Regions from separate parts of the Homo sapiens genome. Here region 2 is linked to region 1. A link means that fine-mapping ties the variant in region 1 to the expression of a gene that starts in the linked region. Tissue or cell type: whole blood. Region 1 holds a variant in brackets; the other region holds the start of a gene. All regions are shown on one strand. Distances are from middle to middle.

Region 1 (8,106 bases):
GTTGTATGGACACACCATAACTTTTGAGACAGAGTCTTGCTTTGTCACCCAGGCTGGAGTGCAGTGGTGTGATCTCAGCTCACTGCAACCTCTGCCTCCCAGGTTCAAGTGATTCTTGTGCCTCAGCCTCCCCAGTAGCTGGGACTTCAGGCACCCACCACCACACCCAGCTAATTTTTGTATTTTTAGTAGTGACGGCGTTTTGCCATGTTGCACAGGCTGGTCTCAAACTCCTGATCTCAGGTGATCCACCTGCCTCGGCCTCCCAAAGTGCTGGAATTACAGGGATGAACCACCGCGCCCGGCAACACACCATAATTTATTTATCCCTTTATCTGTGGGTGACATTTAGGCAATTTCTATCTTTTGGCTATTGTGAATAGTGCTGCTATGAACATGCATATACAAGTATCTGAGTCTCTGCTTTGGATTCTTTGGAGTGAAACTGCCGGGTCATATGGTAATTCTACACTTAACCTTTTTGAGGAACTGCCAAACTGTTTTTCATAGTGGCTGGACCATTTTACACTGCCACCAGCAATACATGAGGGTTCCAATTTCTGCCTCAGGGCTTTTGCACTTGTTTCCCCTCTCTAGAAAGCTCCTCTGACAGATACCCAGGTGGCTCACTTCCTCACCTCCTTCAGGTCTTTACTCAAATGCCATCTTCTCAAGGAGGCCCAACTTGACCATCAAATTTAAAACGGCAACCTCTCAACCACCAACCTGTATGTTGCTATCTCCCTTATTTTCCTCCGTAGACTTCATCACCATTAACATACTATACGTTATTTACTTTCTATTGTCTGTCTCCCAACACAGAAATTTAAGTCCCATGAAGGCAGAGATTTCAGTTTGTATTTCCAACAACTACAACAGTGCCAGGCACATAGTAGGTAATATTTACCGAATAAATGAGACTGAGAGGCTGGGCGCAGTGGCTCAAGCCTGTAATCCCAGCACTTTGGGAGACCGACGCGGGCGGATCACAAGGTCAGGAGATCGAGACCATCCTGGTGAAACCCAGTCTCTACTAAAAATACAAAAAATTAGCTGGGCGTGGTGGCAGGCGCCTGTAGTCCCAGCTACTCGGGAGGCTGAGGCAGAATGGTGTGAACCCGGGAGGCAGAGCTTGCAGTGAGCTGAGATCGCCCCATTGCACTCCAGCCTAGGCGACAGAGCGAGACTCCGTCTCAAAAAAAAAAAAAAAAGAAAAAAGACTGAAAGAGGTGTTTTGCCAAAATGTGACACAAAGAAGGGCAAGAATCTAAGTCTTTGTCATTTAGTGTTTTTTTAAAAAATAATAATAGTGATGGACTGAAACTGAGCCAACCATACCTTTTATTCAGTTGAAAACAAAAAAGGACACATGCATGACATGGCTATTTCTGAATCAGGTGAAATAACTAACAGTCTGAAGGTGAAGAGGGATCAGATTGTCAAGCTAAAACTCACTAACACCTATTAAAACTCAACTGCTTATAACAAGTAAGCTTAGTACTGACTGCATAAATAGTTTTATTTAAACAAAGTTTAAAAAAAGTGATGCTATGGGACACATAACTTCCAGAGCATTAAACTTTAAAATAACTTGATACATAGTATAAGAAACAGAATCCTATGGAAGAACACAAAACTGTACCTCTACCTAAAATACTGCTATAGCAAGAATGTGGTTTTCTGTATTTTTGAACTGTGATAGAGACAGAGAAAATATCTGTAAATAAAAAGAAGACCAATGCTAAAAATGCAAATAAGTTGTTATTTCTGGGAAAAAGTTTAAAACTTAAAGTTGGGTGTCATTAATGCTGCTGAATGAAAATGATTTTAAATGGCAAATTTCATACATTTTACCATAATAAAAAAAGTAAAAAAAAAATGGGTAGAAAAATGGTGTTTGACAAAACATCCTAGAGAAAGGTATGGAAAGAAAAGGATTACCAAGTCCACGACTATGACATAAGCCCCTTTTGGAGATTTGGGAAAATCATTTAGAGCAGAAATCTGTTTGGAAAATTAAAATTAATGGATTCAACTCCTGACTATGAATTGCAAGGAGTATACTACATAGCAGTGGCCAATGACACTGGCTTTCAGTGTTTCAAAGTATATCAAAGCAGTTTTAATTTTCTTTTTTTTTTTAAAGCAGGGTCTTGCTTTGTGGCTTAGGCTGGAATGCAGTGGCATGATCATAGTTCACTGCAGCCTCGAACTTCTGGGCTCAAGCGATCCTCCTGCCTCAGCCTCCTGAGTAGCTAGGACTACAGGCATATGCCACCACACCCAGCTTTTTTTTTTTTTTTTTTTTGTGGTAGGGACAGAGTGTTGCTATGTTGCCCAGGCTGGTCTTAAACTCCTGGCTCCCACCTCAGCCTCTCAAAGTATTGGGGATTACTGGCATGAGACATTGTACCTGGTCCAGTTCTAATTTTGGAGTTAAAAAACACCCATATTGAGTCAAATGACTTCAGAGCCTGCCCACCTTCATGACTATTAAGATCACAAAGGGGGCTTTTGCTAGCTGCTCAAGAAATTAGTAAAGTGTAAATAGTTTGCTTTTAACTGTGCTGGAGGAAAAAGTACAAGATGTGCTCAGCAGATAAAGCTTTCAGTCTGCAGGTCAAGCAATCAGGCTCCACGGAACTAGGAGCAAAGCAATGCTCCTATAGTTATATGATAGCTTTTATATGAAGTTATTTATTAGAAATTTCCAAGGCACTTTAACAATACAAATTTTATTAAAAAAATAACATCAAAACTGTTCAGCAAATCTGTATTCAATGTAACCAAAATAAACAAACAAGAAATTAAAAAAAATATACATCTATATATATATGAGCAAGAAACAAGTGCATTTTTTGGTCCCAATATTTTTTGAATATATTATCTTTATCCAGAGGAATTACATTAATGGCTAAGAAGGTATTATGTATTAGATGTATAGAAATGTAACTTTAAAACTTGTTTTAAGTTCTGTAAGAAGAGTTTTGCCAATTCTTTATGTCTTTGAAATCAGAATCCCTAAGCTAATGTTAATGATAGGCCCAAGACAGAGCATGTAATAATGTCTAATGGTCTGGACAAGTATGAAATTAAGAAGCTACCAATAAGTAGCTACACGAAATCTGTAGACAATTCTAAGAAATGTCTTGGAGTTTGTAATAAGAACAAAACAAACACAAAGAGAAGAGTTCAAAAGTAGACATAAAATGGACATCAGCAAATTTCATGAATCTGGGACAAAGAAGTGATGGAAAAATAAAATAGAGTAAAATAAATTTAAGAACAATATAAAACCTAGCTACCAAAATAAAATTAAAAAAAAAGTTTAAAAATGTGAGTATCGGTCGGGTGCAGTGGCTCACACCTGTAATCCCAGCACTTTGGGAGGACGAGGCGGACTGATCACGACGTCAGGAGATCGAGACCATCCTGGCTAACATGGTGAAACCCTGTCTCTACTAAAAATACAAAAAATTAAAAATTAGCCGGGCGTGGTGGCAGGCGCCTGTCATCCCAGGTACTTGGGAGACTGAGGCAGGAGAATGGCGTGAACCCAGGAGGCGGAGCTTGCAGTGAGCCAAGATCGCGCCACTGCACTCCAGCCTGGGTGACAGAGCAAGACTCTGTCTTAAAAAAAGAAAAAAAATAAAGTGAATATCAGTATTGCTGAAAATTCCTAGAATATTGGATAAAACTTTAAATGAAAACATGAATAACTGACTTTGGGAACTGTAATTGTAGAAATTTTGTTTTTCCAAAAACAAGAAAGTAACCTTGGTTCCCAATACAACCAGAATTTTGATATTCCTTGGACTGCATGCCTGCTAGAGGAAGATTAAAGAACAGCAGCCAAAATGGCTAAACGTCAGCCTGGATGTTGAAGCACTGATCTAAAAACAATATAAAACCAAGCTACCAAAATAAAACAAAATAAAATGTAAAAAATGTTTAAAAATGAGAATATTAGTATTGCTGAAAATTCCTAGAATACTGGATAAAACTTTAAATAACATGAACAACTGTGTCTTTGGGAACTGTAATTGTAGAAATTTTCTTTATCCAAGAACAAGAAAGTAACCTTGGTTCCCATACAATCAGAATTTTGATATTCCTTGGACTGCATGCCTGCTAGAGGAAAATTAAAGAGCAGCAGCCAAAATGGTTAAACGTCAACCTGGATGTTGAAGCACTGATCTCATGGACTTTTCTTGGTTAGAATCGACCCATAAGCTTAAGATCAAAAGCCAAAGCTCCCAATGGGAAGTTGTGCTCTATTTGGTGGGCCTTGAGGTCATCTCTGGCCAAATCAGCATCAGCCTTATGGGAGGTCAGTCAGGTAGGAAGGGACTCTCCCCAAGATCTGATTTCTGAAGGCCACAAACTAGAGGACGTCTCACAGTCAAATAATTCACATTTCTTGGAAAGAAAGAACAGGTATCAGTTGTGTCCATCAAAAGGGGACACTGTCCAGGAGTACCCTGGATATTTTTTGAAACTTATGTGTTGCTTCTTCATTTGAAAAATATGAAAAATAGAACAGTAATGAACAAGGAATGAAGAAAAAATGGTTATCTGACCTAAACATGTAAGACTT[A/G]TAAGAAATTAAGAAAGCAGACAAAACAGACAGAAAAAGATGAACAGTCATATTATCTGGAATGTAATATTCTGAAGGCAAGTCAAGTATAGCAGAGAAAAACAAAAGGCATTTTTGGAGAGAGCCAACTGGAGAAAAAAATATGTTAAGATATGTTAACCTGACGCAAAGATAAGGTGGAATAACAATGTAGTGGCATCTGAAAGCTGAAAAGAGCTGAATAATGAGAGCTAGTGTCATAAACTTGGCTGTTTAACTGCCCTTTGTGTGAGAAAATACTTCAGAACTTTGAACTTAGGAACTTCCAACTTGTCTTGCACCAGGTTGCATGAACTCCATGGAGCAGGAATCTATTTCAATGAGCAGCTTTAAGAAAAAAAAAAAAAAACTTTAATATTTTTCATTTATATTAATATTAATGATTCATTAAAAAATACAACAGTGCTAAAGTCCATCAAAGCAAAATGCACTGAAGGAAAATTAAACTTACCCAGTAGTGGGTTCAGAAGTTGAGGTACTTTTGGAAACTGAAATCAAAAGAGTTTTACATTTACAATAGCATATATGAAGAGTGAGACTATCAATTTAATACATGGGTCCATATGGTGTCCGATCAAAAGTACTGAAATAAATATCAGAAAATCAAAGAAACACAATTATATATACGTACCATTCTCTATTATAACTTGGCAAGTATGAGTTTTACGTTGACTTAAGTGTTTAGCCATACGATCTAAGCCGGAAGAATCAGCTAGGAAATCACATTTAAGGCACACTAGAGTAATGCCCCTATGAAAAAAAAGAAGACAGTAAGAAATATTCTTATCATTTATGAAAATCCATATGAGCTCAATAATTACTTTTCCATGTACTAACTTGATTTGCATTTTAGTCTCCACAACCGTCATTTTCCAATTTTGTTATATAAACTTGATATATTTAAAATAGTTCTCTAGAAAATGGCATCGCTGGCCAGGCACGGTGGCTCATGCCTGTAATCCCAGCACTTTGGGAGGCAGAGGTGGATGGATCACCTGGGGTCAGGAGTTCGAGACCAGCCTGACCAATATGGTGAAACCTCGTCTCTACTAAAAATACAAAAATTAGTCAGGCATCATGGCGTGAGTCTGTAGCCCCAGCTACTCTCAGCTACTTGGGAGGCTGAGACAGGAGAATTGCTTGAACCCAGGAGGCGGAGGTTGCAGTGAGCCAAGATTGTGCCACTGCACTCCAGCTGCGAGACTATGTTAAAAAAAAAAAAAAAAAAGGAAAAGAAAATGGCATCGCCATATTCAAATTACGCTAACATTTAGTGCTTTATAAATTGTCACCTCTCAACTTGTTGCTGAAAGCTAGGCATCAAGAGACTCAAAGCCAAGTCTCCCTTAACAACTTAAGTAATGTGTGCAAGTTATTACTTACAAAGCAAGGATATAATATTCATTCACTGAAATATATAAATATTCATTTGCTGACAACCTTCTTCACCCACACTGTACTACTAGGTATTGTAGATATAACAGTAAACAAAAAAGGTACAGTGTGTGGATTCTGCAATCTAGTATCTTAGTCAAATGAGGATAAAATTAGAAAAGAAATGTGAAGGTTTTAAAATCCTGTAATTATCAGTTTATTAACAAAGCATACATATACTTTTGAAGTTCATCAGATACTTTAAACTTAAATATTTCACCTCTATAGGAAACCAGTGCATACCTTGGATTGACTTCTTTAGTTTTTTTTTTTTTTTTTTTTTTTGAGACGGAGTCTGGCTCTGTTGTCCAGGCTGGAGTGCAGTGGCACAATCTTGGCTCACTGCAAGCTCCGCCTCCCGGGTTCATGCCATTCTCCTGCCTCAGCCTTCCAAGTAGCTGGGACTACAGGCGCCTGCCACCACGCCTGGCTAATTTTTTTGTATTTTTTAGTAGACAGGGTTTCACTGTGTTAGCCAGGATGGTCTCAATCTCCTGACCTCGTGATCCACCCGCCTCGGCCTCCCAAAGTGCTGGGATTATAGGCGTAAGCCACCGTGCCTGGCTACTTCTCTAGTTTTAACAACCTGTTGTGGATTTACACCTAGCCAGAACTCCTGCACATCAAAAATTATCTTCATAAAACTGGAATCATGTGCTTTCCCCATGAAATTTAGGGGGAAAGTCTCTTTTATGATGCCATTTCCCTAATACTGAGGCTCAAATTTGTAGTTATCTCTGACTTTCTTCTTACGTAAAACATTCAATATTTCAAACGTTTTATGATGTTAACGATTTATCGAGTACTTACTCTATGCCAGTCTGAGGGTTTTAGACATTATTGCCTGATCTAAATCTTATGGCAACCCAAAGAGATAGGTGCTACAATTATTACCTTTTTACAGAGGACAGAATTAGTTTCAGTAATCTACTGAGGCCAGGATCAGGTTGGAAATGGAGCCCTTTGATTCTGAAGCCCATGCTCTTAAATATGATGTGATACCACCCCACCACCTCAGCCCAGGGCATTATTAAGTAAGTCTTAACCACTACAATAGCCTTAACCAGCCTATGTGTCTCATGCAGCTACAACTCATCCTGTATACTCCTCCAAAGTGATCTTCCTTCAGCACCCTTGATTCTACTCAAAACATCAATGGCTTCCCCAATGTCTTCCAAATGAAAATTAAGCCCAAACTCCCCAGCCTTGTTTTCAAGGATTCAACAATCTGCATCTAAGTTCAAAACTATCTCCCCAGACTGATCTTTTTTTATTTTTGGAATGGAGTCCCACTCTGTCACCCAGGCTGGAGTGCAGTGGCGCGATCTCGGCTCACTGTAACCTCCACCTCCCGGGTTCAAGTGATTCTCTTGCCTCAGCCTCTGAGTAGCTGCGATTACAGGCGCACACCACCATGCCCGGCTAATTTTTTTTGCATTTTTAGTAGAGATGGGGTTTTGCCATGTTGGCCAGGTTGGTCTTAAACTCCTGACCTCAGGTGATCCACCCACCTCAGCTGCCCAAAGTGCTGGGATTACAGGCATGAGTCACCGTGCCCGGCCAACTTTGATCTTAATATAATACTATGCTATATGAACTTTGTGCTTCATCCAAATTTTACTCCTAGTTATTCATTGTCATTCCGGAGAATGTGTATAGTTTCTGCATTTTCCTTTCTGAACTTTTATTCATGTTATTTCTTCCAACTAGAATGCCCTTGTGCCTCTTCTTGTAAGTAGAAACCTTTCTCCCCTTTGAAATCTGTATCTCTCACTGCACTTACTAGAAACCTCTTTGAATTACTGTAGTTATTTATGTTCACACCTTATATCCATACCCCTTTAATAAATTGTACATTCCTTGAAGGTTGGTACAAGCCTTCTTCATCACGGTCATCTGTATAGGACTTCCTACGCTGTATTATACATGATAGGTACACAATAAATAGCTAAAGAATATTTCATTTTAACAAAATAGTAATTATGAAAAAATTGTTTATAGAAATACAAAATGCTATGTCCATACACAGATTTTTT
Region 2 (8,106 bases), 94 kb before region 1:
CACAGAATCAGTGGAAGCAATATATGGCTAGTCCTTAGCGGTCTGGGCAGAAACACATGAAACTCTACATTCTTCATTTCCCAGATGGTGGAGTGGGGAACAATTATGAAAATCTCTTTCCTCCACCTGAAGCTCTGGGCTTCCAGAGAAATCCCAGAACCCTGGGGAAAAGGTGGGATCCAGCCAGCCTGAGACTGCCATGAGCACAAGTGGCATGTCAGTTTTCCTGTCATTTAAGTGCCCTACGTCTCCCCTGCCATCTCTCCCACTCCCCAGGGGCCTGTGTGTGTGTGTGTGTGTGTGTGTGTGTGTGTGTGTGTGTGTGTGTCTGGTAAGGGAGGGGTTTCAAACGAAATCCCCTCAGCTTGGGTGGCAGGCTGGCCAGCCAGTTTATATCTCCCGGAGTGGAGACAGGGGTTTGCACTGAGCCACCCACACTAGCTGACCTGGTCTTTTATGTGACACACATTTGCCAAACAATCATCCAGGCTTCGAAGGTCAGTTCGTGGCCAGGGAATAGAGAGAAAGGCGTCTTTTCTTCCTTTTCTGCTGAGCCAAATCTCCCCCTTGCTTCCCCCTCTCCCCCCTTCAAGGTCTAGCCTAGGCCCGCATCCCTCACAAAGCCTTCCCTCCCTCCTCCAGCTGCTGCTGACCTCCAGTCCCAGCCGTGCTGGCCTCTGCTCCAACAAGCACAATTAGCACCTGACCAGCCACTGGCCCGGCTGCTTGTCCTCGCCTCTGATTGTTTCAGTGTCTTAGTCATCTCTTCCCCAGCGCCTCCTTCTCTCATCTCCCCCACGGCGCCTAGCATCGGTTGGGCACACAGTAGGTATTAATAAATGTCTGTTGAATTGAAACTCAGCAGCCCCTATGAGGTCAGAACCCTCATAAGCACCCCGACCAGCAGTTTCTTGGCAACCAGCACTGGGGCCCGAGCTACAGGGCATTAGCAGTGTGGCTGCTATTACAGGACACACGAGGCTCAGCGGCCAGAGATTTGCAGGCAGGTTGGTGTTGATGAGAAAAGCCCCTGACCCCTAGGAAAGCGCCTATGGGATTCTGGGTGCCTTGCAGGAGTTTCCTTTCTCCCCTGCAGAAGTAGTTTTCAGTCTGAGAACCACAAAAAGAATAAATTGGAAGAGAAGCCAGAAACCTCTTTGCAGCTTAGAAATCCAGGAGAGATGCCAAGCCCGGGTTGGGGTCAGGCCCTACCCTGAGGACAGAAGGCTGCCCAGGGCCTTTCCCAGCTCGGTGGGAGATCCTGGGGAGACAGGGGGCATGGCAGACATGACCCCTTCCACTGCAGGGGGCTATAGGGATGTTTGGGGGGTGTCCCTAAGAAATGCCATCCTGCCCTGGAACCCAACAAATGACATCCTGCAAGATTGCCACCTGTAGCTCATGCAGAAACCAGTGTCCCAGCCAGGAGCAATGGCTCACGCCTGTAATCACAGCACTTTGGGAGGCCAAGACGGGCGGATCACCTGAGGTCAATAGTTCAAGACCAGCCTGGCCAACATGGTGAAACCCCGTCTCTACTAAAATATACAAAAATTAGCTGGGGAAGGTTGTGGGCACCTGTAATCCTAGCTATTCAGAAGGCTAAGGCAGGGAGAAATGCTTGGGCCTGGGAGGCAGAGCTTGCAGTGAACCGAGATTGGGCCACTGCACTCCAGCCTGGGCGACAGAGCAAGACTCCATCTCAAAAAGAAAAGAAAAGAAAAGAAAAGAAAACCAGTGTTCCTTTCCCTCTCATTCACCCAAATCCTAGGGCAAGACTCTGTGTGTGGGGAGGGTGGGAGGTGCATCTAGACCAGAATCTGGCCAGGGTCTTCAGGCAAAGAGAAGCCCCCAAGTCTAGGGTGCTTGATCCCCCACACTGGCTCAGGAATTTGATCCTGGCTTCCAATTACAATTATTTATATAGATGACATATCCCCTCTCCCTGACCCCTTCCTGTACACCTGCTCTGACTCCAGCCCACACGAAAAGGTACACACAATCCCGGAAGGCAGGTGGTGTCTTCCTCACATCCATGTTTTCCTCACTGCCACTTCATTGGGGTCTGGTACTAGGACCGGCTCTGAGCAAGTGTTTGCTGAATTGAATCTGAGTTTTAGGCGCTGCATTAGGCAATATCGTAAGGGCAGCTAGCACTTACTGTGTGCCATGTGCTGTTCTAATAAGCATCTTATATGTATTCATTCATGTATTTGATCCTCACCAAAGTGTTATAAAGTGGTCTCATGTGACAGATAAGGAAACTGGGGCATACAATTGACTGGGATCACATAGCTAGTAAATAACAATGCTGGGATTTCAACCTAGACAGCCAGGCTTTAAGAACTGGAGGTAGCTGGGCACAGTGGCTCACGCCTATAATCCAGCACTTTGGGAGGCGGAGGCGGGTGGATCACCTGAGGTCAGGAGTTCGAGGCCAGCCTGACCAACACGGAGAAACCCCGTCTCTACCAAAAATACAAAATTAGCCGGGCGTGGTGGTACATGCCTGTAATCCCAGCTACTCGGGAGGCTGAGGCAGGAGAATCACTTGAACCTGGGAGGCGGAGGTTGCGGCGAGCCAAGATCGTGCCATTGCACTCCAGCCTGGGCAACAAGAGTGAAACTCCATCTCAAAAAAAAAAAAAGAACTGGAGGTAAGGAGTTCAAGATTACAGTGAGCTGTGACTGTGCCACTGCACTCCAGCCTGGGTGACAAAGTGAGACCCTGAATTAAAAAACAAAAACCAAAAAAAAAACAACACTCTAAACGCAAAAACAAAAACTGGATGTAAAATTACATTGCGGGGGTAGGGGATGTGGAAAGGAAGAAGGCCAAGCTTAAGAGCAGAAGAGCAGAGGTTTCCCCAGGAAAGCAAACTCCTCAGCCTGTGTCTAGCTGGGTCTGTGCGGCACAGGGCCTGATTTTTGCAAGATGAGGGGCATTTTGGACATGCTATCACTCAGGCCCCTAGAGACAGACCACAGCACCCTCTATTTTAGATCCCAATATATGCCAGAGAAGACAGAAGCCACTGTGTCACCACTTAGCACTAGGTGAGGGAGAGTGAATTTTGGGCCCCTAGGTTGTCCAGGGGTGGGCGCCAGTTCCTGAGCAACCACCGAGCAAACAGTGCAGCACAGGGAGGAATGCCAGACATAGTTGCAAACAAGCCACTCCTTCGGCTCACAGCAAGAGGCTGGGTGAGGGTGGTAGCATGGAGCCTGCTTCATGGTCCCCCCCACCCCTGCCCCCAACAAGAGATCCCAGGCTCTGAATCCAGCCCCAAAAACAACCAGATGCAAGGTAGCCTCTTCCTCACACCAGCTGGCTGGGATAGGAAGTCCTCCCTGATAATCTTCACTGAACTCCAGAGAGCTCCCCCTACGCTGCTCCTGTACTGGATGCACTGAATCTGAATTAATGGTTGAGAAAGCACTTTATAACCAGGAAAACCCAGTGTAACTAACTGCAAGGAAGGACTGGCATTCTTGCTGGGCATATGTGTTCCCCGGGCATTTTCAGTGCCAAAGTCTCCCCAAAGGGAAGAGCTAGAACTGTTCCCTTCACCCACCTCCAACCTGGCACTCGGGCCAGGGGTCAGCTGGCAGGGGGTGAGTCCCCAATGGGCGTGCCCACCAGCTGTTGGGGCTGAGCAGTGGTGGTTCAGGCCCTGGGGTGGTGACCTCACTTCCGCTCCTACCTCCCCACCTCCCCAGCACTCCTCCCATTTGAGGCCCCACCAGGCCAAAATCGAGAAGTCCAAGGTTAACTGTTCTTTCCCACTTTAAGAGCTAATTAAAATAATTAGCCACAATGAACTGTCAAACATTAACCAGAAGAGGCTGCAGGACCAGACAGGCCTCTATCACAGGCCGAGGGATGAGGGGCAGGAATCAAATGGCCATCAAATCCCTCAGCTGGGGTATGGTGCGGGGCGGGGGCGGCCCAGGAGGACCTCGCTGAGCCGAGGTGCCAAGGGGTCAGGAGGTGACTCTGGTCAGGAAGGTGATGTGCAGGCATACGGTGGTGAGAAAAGGGAGTCAGGGTTAGGGTGCGGTGGAGGAGCCAGGAATTCATAAAGCGGTCACCGCCTCAGCAGTCCCTCAAGCCTCCAAAGCAAGGCGCTGGCGTGAGGGGACCCCGCACGGTGCGGCTGCTGAATCCCCTAGGCGGCGGCCCAGGAGGGAACCCGGAGGCGGGAGAGTCGGGGAGAGCGGGAACGCGGGAGCGGGAAGGCTGGCGGCTGGCTCACACGGAAACTCCGGCCCCTGCCAAGAGGTCTCTATTTTGGCGATCCAGTTCTCCACATCATAGGTCTGCGTGCGCGTGTGTGCGTGTGACCCTAAAGCCCTGGCCCCAGAAGCCCCGGGGGCAGTCGGATCCATCTAGCAGCTCCGCCGCGGTCCGCCCCACCTCCTCTGCCCTCGGGCGCCCAGCTTCTGGGGGCCCGCTGTCATGATCGGCCCCGTCACGGAACCCAGGCTGCCGGGGGCGAGGGAAAACAGGGGCCCCTACCCCGACTCCCCGACTCGGGGAATCCATTCCACTTCCATCCCGGGATCGGGAGCCCGGGTTCTCCATCACACGCGCGGCGGGGCGACTCCAGGGCGGCTCGCGACACTCCGCGACTCTCCCGCCCTTCCCTGGGCCCCCAGCCCCACGCCGGGGCCCCGGCGCTCTCGATTCCGCCCTCAAGCAAACTTTTCCACGTCCCCCAAGGCTCGAAGAACCGGCGCCATCGACGTACCTGAGGCCGAGTGGCTCACGGGCCCAGCTCGGTCGCCGGGCCGGGGTCTGTCTCCGTGGTCCCCGCTCCGGGGGCCGAGACGCGGGTCCCCAGCCCCGCCAGCCCGTCCTCTCCCCTCGGAAGCCGGGCCGGGCGAGCGGCGCCAGGAACTCGGCGCCGGCGAAAGGAGAAGTGGAAGTTGAGCGCGGCGCCCGGTCGGTCCCCGCGGCCGCCGGGGCCGCCGTCCCCCGCCCTCCTCCCCGCCCGCCCTTCTTCCCCGCCCGCCTGCCCCCGCCACCCCGCGCCCGTGACTCACCTCGGCGCCGGGGCAGGCTGGTCCGGGCGGGCGAGGCGCAGGGCTCTCCCACACTTCGCGCCGCCAATGGCAAGTTGGAGGGAGAGATGCAAATACCAGGTGAGACGGCGGCGCCCCTGATAAAACGGGGCGGGGGGCGGGGTGGAGCGCGCGGGGAGCGGGGCGGACGCCGGGGAGGGCCGGGCCAAGACACGGGGCGGCAGGGGCGCCCGGGGAGGGGGCGCGAACCGGCGCAGACATGCACCGAAACGAGCGAGCGAAAGGGGAAATGCAGTAGAGACACACACGTCCCCGCAGGCGGCGGATGGGGCGGGCGCGAAGGAGGCAGGGCGGGAGGGAGGGAAGAGCCGGAGGGAGGGACCGACGGGAGGGACTGCGGGCGGGCGGGGTGGGGGAGGGAACGAGGGAGGGACGAGGCATCTCGGTGGAAACAGCGCCCGTCCGCCCCGGCCCGCCCGCCGCGGTCGCCAGCACGGCATGGGGAGCCGTGCCAGGGGCCCGCGCGGCCTCTCATTCCCCTCGCGGCTCGCTCGCGCCCGGGGGACCACGAGGCAGGGCGCCCGCAGAGCCCGCGTCGTGCGCCGCGGCCCGGGCGGGCGCTCCCCACTCTGCTTCTAGCCAGCGAGACTCCGAGCTCTCTGCTCGTTCCGCGCCCTTCCCGGTGCGAAGCCCCCATACAACGCCCCGCAGAGAAATCCCTTCCCCGCGGACTCGGGAAGGTTTCGTCCAGCCCCCTCGGCCCGTGCAAGTGGAGACTTGCTTGACGCCTTTGGGCCAAGCCCTGCGCTCCACATTATTGAGCTCCTGGGGTGTGCAGGCCCCAGCGGGAGGGCGGGCCGTGCGGCGGGTGAGGCCGCGAGATGCCCAGAGGATACAATTTTGGAACCATATGCCCGACTCCGCAGAATCCTGGGCGTAACACCTGGGGTGACTGGAGAGTTTCGGCGACTTCTTAGGGAAGTCGAGTCTAGGACTCCTGCGGGAAGTTGGGGTGGGGGACGCTGGCAAGATATGAGTCAGGGGAAGGGCTAGGGGGAGAGGGGCTGGCCCAGCAAGTGCAAAGAGAGCCAGAGTTCGGGTGCTGGAAGAAAGCCCATGCCTACCTTTCTTCCCCTGTCCAAAGCCAGGCTGCTCTGCTCCACGCGCCCACTTGAAAGCCACTCAGGCACGCTCCCCTTCTATCTCCCCTTTGCCCTCTCTGACCTGCCTCAACATCAATACCGCCGCCTACGTGGGTCTGCTGATAGGAGGCTCTGGAGAGAGTGCGCTGGGAATTGTTACTCTGTATAGTTCCACGTGGCCTTTTTGGGGGTGGGGGCAGCAAGGCCTAAGCCTTGGCAGAAAGCATCAAGACTGAAGGAGCCCCAGGGGATGGGGCCTTCTAAAGGGCTTGAGGTTGAAGGACCTACTCAGCCTCCAGCATCGGCCTGCTTCTCCTGCCTTGGGAAAGGATCATCTCAGGCGCAGGACTGGGGGACAGGAGTGGTGGTGGATGATGGCCACAAAGGCAGCTGCAGATTACAAGTTCCCAAGGAAAGATCCTGTGGCTGGACTGGGGCGCCGGCCCCTGAGACCTCCTGGATACTCAGAATCAAGTCCCCAAAACAAGCACTTTGTCTTTTCCAAGCGGGCATGCTTTTCCCAGGGGATTCCAGATCCTGGAGACACACAGTTCTCTGCTGGCCTCTCATCCACGAGGTCCCCTCTCAAATTTGGGGTAGGTTCCGGATGTCCCTAAGCCCTCTTTACCTTGACTTTGAAATTCACGAATGGACAGACACGTCTGCACACGCGTGCACACACACACACTTTCCCATTTTGCTAAGAGCTCAGTGGTCTGTAACCTCAGACAGACCTGGGTTCCTATTCCAGCTCACTATTTACCAGCTGTGTGACTTCAGGCAAGTCACTTAAACTCTCTGAGCCTCACTTTTCTTCTTTAAAACAGAACAAAAACAAAAACTAGGCTGGGTGTGGTGACTCATGCCTGTAATCCCAGCACTTTGGGATGCCGAGCGGGGTGGATCACTTGAGGTCAGGAGTTCAAGACCAGCCTGGCCAACATGGTGAAACCCCATCTCTACTAAAAATACAAAAATTAGCCGGTGTGGTGGTGCATGCCTGTAGTTCCAGCTACTCGGGAGGCTGAGGCAGGAGAGTCACTTGAACCTGGGAGGCAGAGGTTGCAGTGAGCCGAGATCGTGCCACTGCACTCCAGCCTGGATGACACAGTGAGACTCCATCTCAAAAAAATAAATAAATTAAATAAATTAATTTTTTTATTTTTGTTTTTTATTTTTATGGGTACATTGTAGGTGTGTGTATTTATGGGTTACATGAGATGTTTTGATACAGGCATGCAATGTGTAATAATCACATCAGGGTAAATGGGGTATCTGTCACCTCAAGCATTTCTCCTTTCTTTGTGTGTTTTCTTTTTCTTTTTTTTTTTTCCTTCTTTTTTTTTTTTTTTTTTTTTGAGATGGAGTCTCGCTCTTTCTCCCAGACTGGAGTGCAGTGGCGCGATCTCGGCTCACTGCAAGCTCCACCTCCCGGGTTCATGCCATTCTCCTGCCTCAGCCTCCTGAGTAGCTGGGACTACAGGAACCCGCCACCATGCCCGGCTAATTTTTTGTATTTTTTAGTAGAGGCAGGGGTTCACTGTGTTAGTCAGGATGGTCTCGATCTCCTGACCTCGTCATCCACCCGCCTCGGCCTCCTAAAGTGCTGGGATTACAGGCGTGAGCCACTGCGCCCGGCCTCTTTCTTTGTGTTATATACAATCCAGTTATACTCTTTTAGTTTAGATTTTTTTTTTTTTGAGACGGAATTTCACTCTTCTTGCCCAGGCTGGAGTGCAATGGTGTGATCTCGGCTCACCGCAACCTCTGCCTCCTGGGTTCAAGCGATTCTCCTGCCTCAGCCTCCCGAGTAACTGGGATTATAGGCATACGCCACCACACCTGGCTAATTTTTGTATTTTTAGTAGAGATGGGGTTTCTCCATGTTGGTCAGGCTGGTCTCAAACTCCTGACCTCAGGTGATGCGCCTGCCTTGGCT

What was found. PIP is the estimated chance that this variant, and not a neighbour inherited with it, causes the effect.
Region 2: it holds the start of ELF4, and the variant in region 1 is fine-mapped to the expression of ELF4 in whole blood (TOPMed, PIP 0.99).

The regions. Positions count from the first base shown.
Region 1 is chrX:130,200,030-130,208,135 of GRCh38, forward strand. It overlaps ZNF280C (zinc finger protein 280C), which reads right to left. Exons shown (of 19, transcript NM_017666.5): 17 at 5,268-5,386; 18 at 5,088-5,124; 19 at 2,678-4,963. The coding sequence ends at 4,948. Among named protein-coding and RNA genes, the nearest start is that of RAB33A, 32 kb to the left of the region's middle. The variant A/G (reference allele first, on the strand shown) is at 4,598.
Region 2 is chrX:130,105,574-130,113,679 of GRCh38, forward strand. It overlaps ELF4 (E74 like ETS transcription factor 4), which reads right to left and starts at 4,924. Exons shown (of 9, transcript NM_001421.4): 1 at 4,752-4,924. It also overlaps a transcript of RAB33A not described here. RefSeq lists silencers at 4,806-4,875, 4,956-5,105, 5,356-5,405, 5,416-5,465, 5,536-5,655.